Regions from separate parts of the Homo sapiens genome. Here region 2 is linked to region 1. The links come from fine-mapping of genetic effects on gene expression. Tissue or cell type: testis. Region 1 holds a variant in brackets; the other region holds the start of a gene. All regions are shown on one strand. Distances are from middle to middle.

The links. PIP is the estimated chance that this variant, and not a neighbour inherited with it, causes the effect.
Region 2: it holds the start of PALS2, and the variant in region 1 is fine-mapped to the expression of PALS2 in testis (GTEx, PIP above 0.99).

The regions. Positions count from the first base shown.
Region 1 is chr7:24,698,527-24,706,317 of GRCh38, reverse strand. GSDME (gasdermin E) reads left to right here. Exons shown (of 10, transcript NM_001127453.2): 8 at 1-134; 9 at 3,485-3,558; 10 at 7,059-7,791. The coding sequence ends at 7,292. Among named protein-coding and RNA genes, the nearest start is that of GSDME, 55 kb to the left of the region's middle. RefSeq lists silencers at 1,230-1,399, 4,234-4,528. The variant C/G (reference allele first, on the strand shown) is at 2,732.
Region 2 is chr7:24,569,631-24,577,617 of GRCh38, reverse strand. It overlaps PALS2 (protein associated with LIN7 2, MAGUK p55 family member), which reads right to left and starts at 4,166. Exons shown (of 12, transcript NM_001303037.2): 1 at 4,025-4,166. RefSeq lists enhancers at 3,298-3,417, 3,468-3,517, 3,463-3,962, 4,828-4,927, 4,948-5,017 and 1 more and a silencer at 3,618-4,687.

The DNA of each region.
Region 1 (7,791 bases):
CCGGCAGCAGCAGGACCTTGTGGCCTTCCTGCAGCTGGTGGGGTGCAGCTTACAGGGTGGGTGTCCGGGCCCCGAGGATGCAGGCAGCAAGCAGCTGTTTATGACAGCCTACTTCTTGGTCAGTGCCCTCGCAGGTAAGGAGAAAAGAAAATGAAAGAAATGGCTGCTGCTGCTTTAAAATGCTTTGCCTACTATCTATGCTTCTGGGGACACAGAGGTGGTAACTGTGGAAGATATGGTACATACAGGTCCTTCCCTTCTGGTACAGGGAGGGTAAGAGGTGGGAGGCTGATGGGAAACCCCCCTTCGGTCTCGAGTCTGTGCCTTTCCATCCAGCACAAGCCTCCCTACTCTCCCGGAGGGCCCTTCTCCCTCCTCCCCCAGGGAAGGCCACAGTGGGTGCCCCTTTGCCTACAAAAGCAAGCATCTCCCTGACAGGCTGTGGTTCACTCCGGAGTCCCAGCAGAGCTGAGTGGCAGCAACTTTCATTTGCCAACTGCTCTCCTCCAGCATTTCAGTCCTTCTGATCTTTGCAAACTTGTTATTCCCCACCCTGCGTGCTCCTGTCTGGGGCAAGGGGGCTGTGGAGAGCATTCAACCATCCAATGTACTAGGCTGGGAGGCAGAGCTGTGGCTGGGCCCAGATGCACAGCTTCTGCACTGGTCCTGAAATGGCCTCCCAGGGGAGCAGCCATCCAGTTACTGTGGAACAATCTCTGCCACCTCTGTACCCCTCCCATCCGGAACTCGCCATGCCACAGTGCCTGTCACGAGGAAGCTGGGCTTCCTATTCCCTCTCAGAAAAGCCAGTTGTGGCAAACCAGTCCCCACAGCTTCCCTTCATGGTGACACTAGTCAGGACACATAGTTTCTGATACATTCAGGGTTCCTCCCTAGCACCACACAGAAACAGACCCAGTAATCTTCAGTTTTTAAAGAATTAATCTGAGAGAATGCCTGTCCCAACTCTATGTGCTGATAAATATATGCTCTGTCTTGTTCCAACTCATGGATAAATATAGTTTTGACTGGTAAACTGAAACAGGACATAAGACAGAGCCCTGCGGAACTCCACTAGAGACTTTCTCCCAATGTTAACATCCGGGTATTAGAGTCTTTCAGAACAGGCATTCTGTCAGGAGCTAATACACAGGCCAGAGTTCTCCGACTTGTGAGAGGTCTTTTCTTCATATACCCCATTACTTATTGCAGCATTTCTATCAATAGCCTGGATCAGTGATGCCAAGTAGGTAACACAGGGCCAGCATCATGAAAGCACCACAGTCCCCTTCTACTTGAGCCTAGACACAGCATCAAATTCTCTGCAACTGGCTGGGTGTGGTGGCCCCCATCTGTAATCCTAGCGTTTTGGGAGGGTAAGGTGGAAGGATCACTTGAGCCCAGGAGTTCAAGACCAGCCTAGGGAACATGGCAAGACCTCATCTGTACAAAAAATAAATTAGCCAGGCATGGTGGTGTGTACCTCTGTAGTCCCAGCTACTTGAGGGGCTGTGGAGGATTGCTTGAGCCCAGGAATTCAAGGATGCAGTGAACTATGGACGCCATTGCAGTCCAGCTTGGAAAAAAAAAAAAATCTCTGCAAGCTTGCACGCAGGCAGCAGGCCACGCAGTTGACACATAATGTGAGACTGACTTGCTGTTTCTGAATTGGAAACTCAGAGGTAGTGAAATCTTTAGGTGCAGCTGGCAATGTCTAAATTTTTCAACCAATCCTGCCCTTTATTTTTCTGAACTGTGATCTCATTTATATGTCAGTCCCAGTGGAGGCCAGGCTGGCATACAGCCCTTCCATTTGTGCTCTTGCTAATCCTCCGCCCTTCTGAGTTCATTTTTTTTCCTCTTAATATAATCTTCTCTCCTTAAAAACTGAGGAAAGTGCTGGAATAGAAAATGGGGTCTTCGTAGGTCCTCACACCAGTTTCTGGCTAATAGCTGTTTTCAGCACTTCAGTCCCACATGTGACCTGTCTCCTGGGAAGCTTCCTCCACTATTTTGTAACCTTAAGCAACTCCAAAGGTCTCAACTCCTTGGACTCTATTTGTAAAATAGAATTGGTACATGGAAGAGCAATCAAAATAATTTCAGTTCAAGAAACATTTAACAAGCTTATACTATGTTTTAGGCAGTGCTAGGTAAATATCAAGTCTTGGCCCTCCAGGAAATCAGAGTCAAGTAGTAAAATTAGTGGGTAAGCTCGGTAATGCAGATGCTGTTCTTTCATTTCTGTGCCCCTAGCACCTAGTGTACCACACTCAAGATAGCAGCTAAATGGGTAATATGGGACTCAGGTATTTCCAAGAATAAGAGATGAGGATGATGGTTACCTGGGTCCCAGGAGCCACCCTGGAAAGTGAAGGCAGGGCAGTAATGGCAGATGAGATGGCTGGGGACAGAGGCTCAGCTGGATACGCTAGGCCACATAGGCTTTCCGTCTTCACCTTCCTGCTTTGGGGTAAGAGACTACTTGAGAAACTGTGGATCTTCTCTTCAGACAAATGCATACACATTTGAATACCACATTAGGTTCTCTGAAAGAAGCATCCCCCTGGCTGCTGCCCCACCCCCTTAATAGCCTACACTCTCTCTTGAGAACGAGCCATGTACTCTCTGGGTCACACCTCAACAACACACTGTCTTTACAAATAAGGCTGCTAACACATGGCAGGAACAACTGAGTTCCTAACCAGTCCCTCGGCTACCTGATTCAGCA[C/G]GTGACTCATTCTTTTTTGCCTTTTCAGCTCAAAGCTTGTACCCCCAAGGGACTATGGTCCTTTTAAGAACTGTATCTGTGTTTTCCCTGGGAGGTGTTTAATATCCACTTTGAATAACACTGATCTGGCATTCCCTTCCCTGGGGCTTGGCAAGGGCCCTTCTGGTGCAGCCCCTAGCCTGGCACAGCTCTGCTCCAACTTTCTGCTGTTGCTGCTCCTGGCCTCAGGCCACGCTGCACTGATAAAGCTACACTGCATTTTCCTCCCCAAAATGATTGGTGATGGGGTAGAGCCCTTTATAGTTTACACAGTATTCTGACATATGCAAAAACAAAACAACTATGGTAAATGAGGAAACTGAGGCTGAGAGAGGTGTACCTGAGGCTGCAGCCTGAATGTGTGGAGGGTCTCAAACATCACTCTTCTGTCACCAGATGGCAGGGTCTGCTTTTCCATGCTGTTTCCTTTCCTTCCCCCAGAGTCTGGGCAGTTCTTTCCATTTGGTAAATTGAATGTCAAGGAGTATCCTCTGTGGAATGCAGAGCTGGCAGCTGGGTTCCTACATCTGTTTTCTACAAGGTCTTTGCTGCCCATTTAGCACCATTCATTCACTAACTCAGCAACTGCTGAGTACCTCCCCTGCCTGGCTGGCGGGAAAGTACTAAAATATAAGTTAGGTGCCATCCAGGGGCTGGCTCTGTTCCCATGGACTTGTTTTTTTGGACTGTGACTGTGATTTTTCTCTCCTGCAGAAATGCCAGATAGCGCAGCAGCTCTGCTGGGCACTTGCTGCAAACTCCAGATCATTCCCACACTGTGCCACTTGGTAAGCAACCTCCCAGGTGGGACCTTAGAATGGATAGGAATGGGGAAATGATGAGGGGGTAGACATCCAGCAGCCGGTAAAACACCTCTAGGACTTACCACAACAGCTCTTCAAGACACATTAAGTAAGTATTGTTATTAACCCCACTTTTATACACATCCCACCCCATGGGAAGACTGAGACCCAGAGGAAAATGATTTGTCCAAATAACTTGTTAGCAGGTCCAGGACTTCATCCTTGTCTTTCGACTCCAACTCTTATACTTTTCCCATTGTTTGGAGAGAATTTTGGCCAAGGTTTGGTGTTACATTACAATAAAGGGGCCTGACACCATATTATTTGCAATGGCAGTTTTGTGCTAAGACTGGTTTGATTGAGCTCTGCAGCAGATTTGCCAGGGAGGTATCCAGGACTGATCTGTCCCAGGGAGACATAGCTTCTTTCATCCACTTTCAGGAATATCGTTAGCTTGGTGCCCCCTCTGGAAATGTCATTCTAAGAGCATGAGTTAGGTAATGATGAGCTTAGCCCTAGAGAGTCAAGATTAAGCTTTTCCTTTTTAAATTATAGATTGAGCCATTAGTAGAAAGAACCACCAACAGGTTGCCCTGAAGCCACCCTGATGGGGCAGCTAGTCTTGTGTAGCTTTTGCAGATGTTGCTCAGCCTGGGGCAGAGGAGCTGAGCACACACGGTCTGATTATTTTAAGGCCTAATTACTAAAGTCCAAGGCCAACCTGCTATGTTGGCCCAAAGGATCATCTCTCAGAGCTCTGCTGTCAGATCTGGGAAGCAGGTATTGGGGCAGACTGCCTAGACAGGACCCTGACATTTGGTATACATCTACTCTGGGAACACCGAGTAATGTGGTTGGTGCCTTTGTGCATAGCAAAGACATTAGAAGACTATGCAGCATGGCATCATTCCAAGGAGCAGATCAGGTATCACAACTGAAAGATTCCACAGGCCCAGAGGAACATGCATGCTTGTCCACTGACTGCAAAAATGGAACTACTTGAAAATGTGCCAGCATGTGTGTCCTGGGCCAGCTGAGGGTAAAGGCTGGTGGCACAGTCTGGTTATGGAAACAATACGTGCCATTATTCTAATTGTATGCAATGATGAGCAAAACAACAGCTCTGCTTTCAGATCTCAGCTCCTCTTGCAGCAACTGAGTGCTCAGCATTTACTAAGTTAGTCCTTCCCAAGTATTTACAGATTCATCAACTGCAACTGAAGCAAATAAAAAGAAAATCCTGCCAAGCCCATGTTATCTAACTGTTATCTAACCCCTTCTGTGACAAACTCACACTTAGCTGTCCTCCTCCCTGCAGATCAGCTCTAGGACATTTGTATTACCCCCAAGTTCTGCTCTGTTGGTGTTCTAAGAGCAGCAGCCAGAACACATTCGGAGTTCAGAATGGAAGGTATTCTGCTTCTGCACATTCTGCCTTTTGGCACTGCTCAACATAGTCAAAGACCTCCTTTTTCTGTAAAGACCTTCCTGGGTATCTTCACATACCTCCCCTCAGATTTGCAATAGCTCTATTTAAGACATCGAGGTGTCTGCCTCCTGAAGGAATTTGAGCGTCATGTTTCTTTAAGGGATTTACTTAAAACGGCACAAAATCCATCTGCAGCCCTGTCTTTTCTTGTCTAGTAGCCAGGGTAACTTTGAGAGGCTTTCTGAAGGGCTTTTGGGAGTACAGTGCCAGATACACTAACACATTTCCAAGAACTGGTGAAAGGGTGAGTTAGAATCAGTAGAGAATGTTAACTTCACTCCACCACCCTCTGGGTCACCGTTTCCCCCTTATACCTAGAAATGCCTGTGGGCAAAGGGGGTGGTGGATATTTAGAAAAGAAAGCCGAATGCTGCACAGCTCTCATCCACCAGGTGGTAAGGACAGGGAGCCTGCCATGCTGTTGACAGTCTCCAGCCTGCGCCAGTGGGGCTCCTCCTTAATTCACTGGGGTGTGATGCTGTGCTTAAAGAGCAGGTCTAATCTACTCTCTAAAGCACAATCAATAGTTTGCAGTCTGAGCCTAATGGTAACGTTAAGCCTGTGGTTACATTGTGTGAGTTGTATTTGGCGAATCTACAAGGTTCGTGAGGCTGATTTTGATAATAAACCCACAAGTACTTTTACATTCCAGTGAGTGCTACCCTTCAGTCTACCTGGACAAGCTGCATGACTTTCAAGATAGTCACCACTGCTCAGGAAATTTCTGGAATTTTTTCTTTTGGATTCCCTTCAGATTTCTTAAAATTCAGGCAAACTTTCTAGGCTTATTTCATTTTTAATTTAATTTAAAATTTTACTACTTACATTATTAATCAGATCTTGAATGCCTGTTTCAAAATGAAATCTACTGGTAAATTTGTAATTGCTTAAGATTTGTAAAATATTACGGGTACAGATCAAGACCCTAAAAGCAAATCAAATATTTCAAGTATGTGTTGAGCAGTGGAATTAGAGCAGCATCCAAAGTGACCTCGGTGAAGAACACATTGAGTGTCTGTGTTGTAGGCACGGCAGACAAGGTCCCTGCTCTCACGAGCAGCTTAGGGTTAAATAAGGGAAGGTGACTAAACACTATCAAGCAGATTACTTCAGATATAGTAAGTTTATGGATACAACATAATGGAGTAACATAAGGCTGAGTTCTGGGGCTGGGGGTAGCTAGATGGAAAGGGATTGGGAAAGGCCCTCAATGTGGCATTTCAGCTGACAACTGAGTGATGAGAAGGGGAGATCAACAGGGAAATTTGGAAGAAGGAATAACAAGGGAAAAGGTTCTTGAGGCAGGAAGGATAATTAAACTAAACTATGGTACCTACCTTTGAGGAGTTCATGCAAAGATATAAGAAAGTTCTAATATCTTCAGTAAAACAAAAACTAAGCATACTGCATATATGACCAAAGTACATTCTAACCTTTCTAATGTACTGGAGTTAATGGGACTAGTAGAAAGAGTTTGGAGAGTAGGGATTCAGACAGAGGACACTAGACAAATTGGATAGAATCAGGCCTGAGGTCCTGGCCTGGATCAAATATATCATGTTACACCTCAAGGGTTTTCCTGCTCTATTTGGGGAAATTTAAAAAACGACATAGTTGGCCAGGCGTGGTGGCTCATGTCTGTAATCACAGCACTTTGGGAGGCCGAGGTGGGCAGATCACCTGAGGTCAGGAATTTGAGACCAGCCTGGCCAACACGGTGAAACCCCATCTCTACTAAAAATACAAAAATTAGCTGGGCATGGTGGCGCACACCTGTACCAGCTACTCGGGAGGCTGAGGCAAAAGAATCGCTTGAACCTGGGAGCTGGAGGTTGCAGTGAGCCGAGATCACGCCACTGCACTCCAGCCTGGACGACAGAGCAAGACTCCATCTCAAAAAGTTTTTTCCCCCAGAATTACCTACAAGTGCATTACTATCCAATGTGGATTTTTTAGGACATTTTAAAAGTGAATTTGTTTAAATGTGTCATTTCAGCTTCGTGCTCTGTCTGATGATGGAGTATCTGATCTTGAAGACCCAACCTTGACTCCCCTGAAAGATACAGAAAGGTTTGGGATTGTGCAGCGCTTGTTTGCCTCAGCTGACATTAGTCTGGAGAGACTGAAGTCATCTGTGAAAGCTGTCATTCTGAAGGACTCTAAAGTCTTCCCACTGCTTCTTTGTATAACCCTGAATGGACTCTGTGCTTTAGGCAGAGAACATTCATGATGTCATATGTGAACTAGAAGTACGTGTTACTGGCCAAGGCTATTTTTCAGAACTGTTAAAGGTCATATGCACGTTAAAAGTTGACCAATGAAATGAATTTACAGAACAGTTTAAGAAGTGGTGACATTTTGCATGATGAATGACCTGACTTTTAGCCACCAGGTACTCTTTAAACAGTTTTCCTTATCAGAGGCCCTCCTGTGCTGGTGACCCAGCATCTGAGTTAGGTTCCAGCATGTAAAGAGCTGGGAGGGCGGAGAATTCTTAGCATACATTCAGACGTTTTTTCTGCACAATAATAAGTCCATCTGTCACTTGCATTCCACTTTTTGTTACATAGAAAGAGTCTGACCCTTTAATCCAAAAGGTCTTTTTACATTGTGAATGCTGTGGGAAGGCAATTTCTCTGCACACAAGAGGCTACGTTTTGGAAGTGATGTATGTTATTTGATGACTGAAAATGAACTGTAAATGCTCCTAGAGTATATTCCTCTGCTGA
Region 2 (7,987 bases), 130 kb after region 1:
ACAAAATGAAGGGCAATGTAGATGAAATATAGCAAAAAGTGGAGGAAGAGGGTAAAGAAATGATAGATTTAAGAGGAAAAGATGTAAATTGGTGAAGGAGGGATTAAATCATGTACAAAACTAGCAAGCAGTAGAAAGGATCTGAAAATAACTTGAGCTTTATGAAATATTCATTATATTGTCTTTAATTCTCATTTTGCCTTGTATCAGTGATAACTCTGACAGATAGGCTTTTAGAAACTTCCATTCCCAAGTACTTAACACAATCCTAAAGTTAGCCAGAGATGAATATATTCCTAAGCAGAAAGTATCTCTTCTAGTACACTATATTAAAAAAAAAAAAAAAGGAAAAAAGGAAAAAAGAATTTTCGGATGAAAGCAAAGTCATCTTAAAGGAAAGAAGGAAAATAACCTAGGATGAAGGAAAAATAGAAACTAATTTTGTTCTGTTCATTACTCTGTGAATATACTTACTATGATAAAGATTATAGAAAGGTCTTTGAATTAGTCTATCATAATTAAGGAAGGTCATAAAACTTAAGTTCTTTCTAAACTACTATAAACGTAGCAGCCTCTGTTTACTGAGTTCATTATTATTGAATTGGACATTAACAAGGTTAAATACTGTCAGAAAAGAAAAAGTAGAAACCAGGCTTTTGACTTTATTACACCTGGTAATAATGGTCACAGCTTAATGGTTAACAAAGTTGTGGGCTTTAATCTTATCTATATGACTATGATAAAGGAAGAACTTCCCCTCTGCGGTGAAATGAACACTAAAATTAGCTACATGGGATGCTTCAATATCTTCTCCTCCAAAAGCTTTTTATAAGAGGAGACCAATTTGTTTAAAGGGTTTGGATATAGATACACTTCACAGAAGAGTGATGATCTTTCCAGATCCTTCCAGACAACTAATATCTGTGTACTCTAAGCAAGCAATTAAACCTACACTGCTTCTAAGATTAATGCAAGTAAAGTCGGATCTTTGAAAGCTATAATGTATTCAGGAATCTTATCTTTCATTATGTTAGAGGCATACTTAGACCACTTAACAGTAGACTGTTAATAACACAGTCTATAAAGAATGATACTTTGTAAGCATGCTGTGAGTTAAAGAAAGAAAAGTCATTAAACACCTTGATTGAGACTTGCTTCAGAGTGCATCCTCCTCAGCACACTACCCAGCAGTTTGACAAAGTGCCCAGGATTAGCAGCCAATGTATGTAAAGAAGGAATATGGTCAAGCCCAATTGTAAAGTCTCCCCCCAGTGGTCAGATACAAGTAACAGAAAAGGAGGAAAATCATTGCAGCTTCTGTGAGACTGAACAGGAAGACTAAACAAAACTGGTCCCTACAACAAAAAAATAAAATCTTTAATTCAATACTAGCACCATATCAGGAAAGAGATCTCTTGTGCTTATCTGCTCTTATATTTATAAATGTGAAGACTACTTTTCTAAAGAACCTACAGTTAAAACAAAACTAGCATAATTTTTCTCCGCCTAAGTTTTAAGGAATAACTGACATATTCCCAAACAGTTCAGTATTTATCAAATGGGTAAGTGTTCATTCTTCCTGAAATAAACATCAGCACATCACTTACATGGTTAACTATACTTACCTGAAGTAGAGTTCTGATTTAAAAAAAAAAAATCTAGTCACTCATCAAGTGAATCACTCTGGAAGGAAAAATTATTAACTATTATATACCTAATGTGAATTTTACAAGATACTCTTTTTCAAAAGTCACCTAGCAATAGGTAATTTATATTAGAGTGATGTCAAAAGTATAAATGCGTCCTCTTACCTCTTTTAATTTTATTTTCTGGCTGTTTTTTTACAATTAGCCTTTGACTAGCACTAATCCTGTATTATTTGTAACTCTCTCAGCAATAATATGATGCTACTCCATTTTTACAAAGCTCAGATGTCAAAAATATGAAAGACATTTAATTAAAATATCTGTTTTATTCTGCTAATCCATTATTAAGTAGTAAAGCATGTAAAGGGATAGTAAATATTCAAACAAGCAACTTCAATTTTAAAACAACTTTTTAAAAAGATAACACATAGAGTCACAGTTATGTCTTCTTGGTTATCTCAAGCTAAAAAGAGGGGGAGTGGGGAGAGAAAGAGAGAAGCAGGCTATGTAGTGCTCTGGAACAATTTCAGCCTAAAATGAGACTCAGAAGCAAACTGCTCCCTCAAATGTTTAAAAATATGATTCATTTTTAAAAATCCAACAGTTGGCCTAAAGAAAAAAAAAGATTCTGTCTTATATAGAGCTACTAGACTTGCTTAAACACCTTAATTTTTCCAGTGTTGATTTAACCTAGAATGCAAAATAATTCATTTTGACATTCCAGATGTCAAGAATTCGGTGGCATCAGTAAGGACACATACACACCTCTTTCATAAAGATGGTGTGCAGTCTCCATAGGACAAAATTGAGCAATTAAAAGTGTTACCATTTGTGTATTATGTAACCGTAGTCCAGAATGAAGGAAACATGGACCTTAAAGAGTAACACATCGTGCAAACACGCATTTAAACACCTATTTAAATATATGATAGATTTAAGGTACAAATGACCTCAAAATGACACAACCCACAAAAGTTCTTTGTTTACTGTTAACAAGGCCTCAGAAGACATAACTATAATCAGGCCTACTACCCACTACCCTATCATTGCACAGTAGATGCCTACAATAAGCAATATTACTTGAGGTCCGTTGCTATACCTATATACGGAAACTATATACCGCATTACTAAAAATGTTACTTCGCCTGGTATATTCGACCAACATAAGTTTACAAATGATTTGCAAAATTTCACGGGAAGAAATGGCTGCTAAATCATACTCCAATTGAAACGCATTTTAACGCACCCCAAACGTTCTCAGCTACACTACAAGACCACTTGTAATATACTTGAAGCACAAAGTAAAATTCCAACACTCTCCAAAGGCGTAGGAAAGAATAAAACGTGGCTAGCCTGACCTTACCCGGCTGTTTATAAGTAATGCGGAGAATTTTCTGAGCTTCCCCGGCAGTCTTCAATTCTCTCCCTCGCTTCACCCCCACCCCCTACACAGATGCACACCCAACTGATGGAAGTTTAACAAATGTAATCTCGAGCTGCAATCCCAGAAACTGGTAGGATTGAGAATAAACTCCCAGTAAAGTGTTAAAAAGTCCTTCTGCAAAAAAACATCTACCAACCAATCCACATCCTGTCACCACACGGTCGGATACCTCAATCGACTCCCCTGCTGACCCTCCACCCAGCCAAAATAAAAAAGCCCCAGCACCTATTTGGTTTCAGACAAACGTACCGAGAATCCGCGAGCACGATCTCAGCAGCGAACGCCCCCGCGGCAGCCTGTGCTCGGCCCACAGCCACTTTGGCCAAACAACTGGAGTCTCGTACCTCGGAAGTAGCGGCGGTAGTTGGAGAAAGCCTCCTCCCCTACCAACTCCGAGCTCGGGAGAGAACCGGGAGCCGGCGGAATCACCCCCTCTCGGGACAGACCCCGGAGGTGTCAGTCACAGCAACGCCGCCCCCAGGCCGGCTCTCCATTCAGGCTCCACCGCGACTCCCGCCGCAGAGGTGTAGGCACCCAAGCCCCGCGCCCGAAGGGGCCCCGCGCGTCTGCGGCCCTAGCCCCAGTCGGGGCCGCGCCGGGGAGCGCGTGGGGAGCGGCGGCAAGCAGCATGGGCCAGACACGTTGCCGAGCTCCGGCCCGCCCAGCCGCCCGCAGCCAGAGAGGCAGGAGCCCGGCCGAGCGCCCCTTCCGCGCGGGCCGGGCTGGGGGCGGCCAGCAGCCTCCCCGACCGCGGCGCCGCCGCCGCCGCCTGCCGGTCCCTCTTCCCCGCGCCCGCCGAAGCCCAGGTGCCGAGGGGGGCGGGGCGGGCCAGGGTCCCCGCGTGGCGCGCCGCGCCGAGCAACAGGGCGCCCCCGGCCGGCCCGGCGCGCGGCGCGACCGTTACCCGAGCGGCGTGGGGGTCCAGTTAACTCACCGGCTCGCACCTCAGCCGCCTCCGCGCCGCCGCTGCCGCCGCTCCCGGTCGCTCCCCGCCGCCGCTGCTCTCCCTCAGCCACAGGCGCCGCCGAGCAGCCCCATCTGCAAACTCGTGGCTCGTAGTTGAGAACTGGAAATGCGTCTCTCACTGCCCTCCGCCTCCCTCTCTCTCCTCCCCCTCCCTCGCTCCCCACTCTGCCCCAGCTCCGGTCGCCCCCGCCGCTGCCTCCGCGCGCGCAGCCAGCCGCGCCTCAGCCGCCCTCCTCCTCCTCCTCCTCCTCCTCCTCCTCCTCCAGCCGCCGCCGCCGCCGCCGCTTGGGCGCGCTCCCAGCCGGCCTCGCGCGTGCGCCGGACGTCGGGGAGCGCGCGCTCGGGCGCGAGGAGGTGCCACCGCCTCCGGAAAGCCGGGCCCCGCCCCTCCCGCCGCGGCTGGGCGCCCAGGTGGAGCCCCCTCCCAGCTTCTGAGCGCCCAGACTGACTGCGCTCTGCGCCCGGCCGGCTCGCTTCAGGGGTCCCGGACCTGCGCCCGCGAGAGAGGGCTGGTCGGACCCAGTCCCCGCCGGGTCTCCTGGGCCGAAGTCGCAGCTGTCTGTCAGCATTTACGGGTGGGCAAGATACTCCTCGGGGCATAAAACAGGCTCCGCCCTGACCTTTCTGAGAGTTTTACATTCAAGAACCCAGTCGTGGGGCACAAAAGAGAAATGGAACGAGAAGAAAAGCCTCTGGAAAAATCTCCCCCTCCCCCTTCACAGACTCCACTGGATCTGATGTGTATTTGGCAGGTTCTACGGCGCTGACTGTGTCCTTCATTAATTTTTTCCCAAAGGCCCGACCGGGCAGTGTGATTCACACCCGAGGAAATGCATGGACACTGGCTCTTTTCATAGCACCGAGGCTCCCGTGGAACTCCCTGGGTCGGCTTTGCCAGACACTCCCTGGACACAGTTGTTCAGCTCCTCCCCAGCACCTGGGCTTCCCAGACCTCAAAAGGGTGGGGTTGGGGAGGGCATGCCATCCTTTCAGCCTGGACTCTGCGTAGAGCTTGGTGAACTGTGATGAGTGTCCGGATGTGTAGATGACACATTTTGACAGAAGTGCAGATTTAATTTTTCAGTTGAAAGGAACTGAGCAATGCACTGCAGCAGAGACTTCTGGCTAGAAAAACATAGCAAGGCAGCCAGAGAACTTCCGATCCCCTTAAAAGAGCTCTGTGAACCCTCAGACCTGTGACAGGCGGCTTTTGGAAAAACTATTGTGTTCTTCCTAAAATTGAAGAATGTAATTTACATTTTACAAAATGCTTACTGCAATCTTTTCAAACCATGAACGTAGAAAGTGCAAGTCAAACTTTACGTGTGAGGAGTGTTATGAGGTGGCCTCCTCTGTGCAGCCTTTCCTGGCTTCTCTTGGGCACCTTGCACAAACCAGACCATTAATAAGTGTTTGCAGAATAAATGCGTGCATCATGGCCCTTTGGATTCAGAGATGAAGTTATAAGTTGTATTGTCTCCTCTCTTTGTGAATGTGGCAGGCATGGAAGGGAGAGAGAAAATACTATTGATGAGATGTATTAAGAAGGTCCAGTGTCCAAAACAGTGATTTTTGTGTTTATCCTCAACCAAGCATCAAAGATTAATTTACTTTTCCATTAGGATCATTAATTTTGCAAACCAACATGCAGGGGGGCCTTGTACAGTGTTAATTTAGAACCTTCTTTCCTGGAACCACAAACCCAGGCAAAGGTAATTGGAAGCATTTAAGGAGACTCAAACGTGCCCAGGGCACAGAGTAGCTTTGGGCCCCCTGTAGTCAGGATGGCTGGATGAAATGAAGTGGAGTGGGCTCGGAGCCCAAGGCAGAGACAAAGCGGAAGGATGGGGTTTGTCTTCTCGGGGTGTCAGCAAGACCTTTCAGGTCCTTCTTGCTGCCCCAGGCCCACTTGCTTCTCACAGGACACCCATGGGTCCTCCCTGCTGTACCCTACCCAGGCTTGTGAACTCTTTTCCCTTCTGACTCTTAACCTTAACACATCCCCTTGGACCCAGCCACTTAGTTACTTGCCCTGAGCTTCTCTGGGGTTGGGGTGGGAGGTAGGGTATGAATGTCATTTCCAGATATGTTAGTGATCCTTAATAGTGCACTTTTATTTCCTCAAGGGTCTTCTGGAAACAATGTCCTAACCTACTCTACCCCTGCTCCCTGCAAGTAGAATGATGTTAACTGAGGAAGTTTTAGGGAGGGAGGGTTTGGGGTAGGCTCTGCCCCTCAAATTACATGCAGACCTACCTGACTTAAAGCTGGCACCACTCCTGGCCAACTGCTTTATCTCTGCATCTACCAGAGACCCAGCATTTGGGAGCAGGAATACAGGAACAATTATCTTTCATTTGCAGTTCCAAGTCTGTGCTCTAAGTAATGACAGCAGCTATCAGATGGAGGCTTATCACTGCCGTAAGACTCAGCTTCATTCTTAGAGTCAGAAAAATGATTTTGCTCCAATAACTGTCTTTGATTGCTCCCCTTCAGAAAGCTCTTGCCGGTGAAGTTCCTCTCTCAGTGTCAGATGAGTATTGTATCAAATACTCATATACAGTTATAAAAGGAAACACTATTTCCTTTTATAAATGATATTCCCATTTTATAACATTCTGCCCTTCCTCTAAACTTTAAAGGTGGGACATGCCAGGATAAATTTAAAGTGTTCTCAGTTAAACATTGGAACTCCCATCATTGGTTCCCAACTCAGCTTTCTGAGAGGTCATCATACTGAGACACCACCATCCATTTCCCATACCGGTTACAAATTCTTCATTCCAAGAAAGGGGAATGATATGATTGAGAATGATGGTGGATCTTTCTCTTCAGTGTCCTTAATAGTCTGACTTTTCATTTCCTTCAAGGTTACTCTAAAGGGATCATAATTTTACCACAGCCCAGTATCTCCCAACGGTAATTCAATTTAAAATTTGAATTTTGATTCTTAATTCAGGAGCATCCATCACTCAATTTTGTTTCCTCCTTCAAATGTAAACAACATACACTTTTAATGTGATTACATTTTCTTTTCTCTTCTGACCTGCTTTGCTCCTACAGAAATTGAGAATTTTGCTAATAGCCCCGAATTTTAGCAAAAGCAAATCCTGTGTACTTGTTTTTCAACTAATCCATCATAGTAAAAGCAGTGACACTCCTGGAGGATAGCTTTATTTAAAAATGCAACTGGCATGCATCACAAAGTCCAACCAAGTTTTCCTTCAGAATACTTTATTTAGCTTCACTCCTTTTATCTCTGCTCACAAAGCTAGGTCAGATTCCAATTTCCAGCCTCCTTGCTAACCTTTCTAATTCTAGCCTCTCTCTTGCTTCCTTGCAATTTATCCTATACTCAGAGCAGTGCTTCTTAATTTTTGGCTCTTTATTGAAATCACCCAGAGAACTTTAAGAAACAAAACAAAGCACTGATGCTTTGATGCCATCCCAGACTTAATTGCTCTGGAGCACAGCCTGGGTGCCAGGATTTTTTCAGAGCTCTCCAGATAACTCTAATACGCAGCCAGAGTTAAGAACTATGGAAATGAATCATCTTCCAAACAACATTTATACCAAATCTTCACAACAGTGGGGTAGCTCCAAATTACCTCGAGTAATCAAATTAAAATTCCTAATCCTGTGCTTTAAGACTCTTTGCCAATTGACTAGAATAGTCCCCTTTCAAAACAGCTTAAATTTATCTCCTTCCTAAAGCTTCTCCAGATTAGTCTCACCTGGCTGCCTGAAGATCACCGTTCCCAGCTCTGAGCATCCCGACTGGCACTGGTTTACAAACCGCTGGACCTCAGTTGATTGTGTACATTATTGTTTTAATCTTGCTTTCATAGATATTTGTCAGAGGCTTTTCTTATAATCTAAATCTTTCCAAAAGTCCCACTGGGTCAACTGTCTCAAACAGAAATGTCTTAGC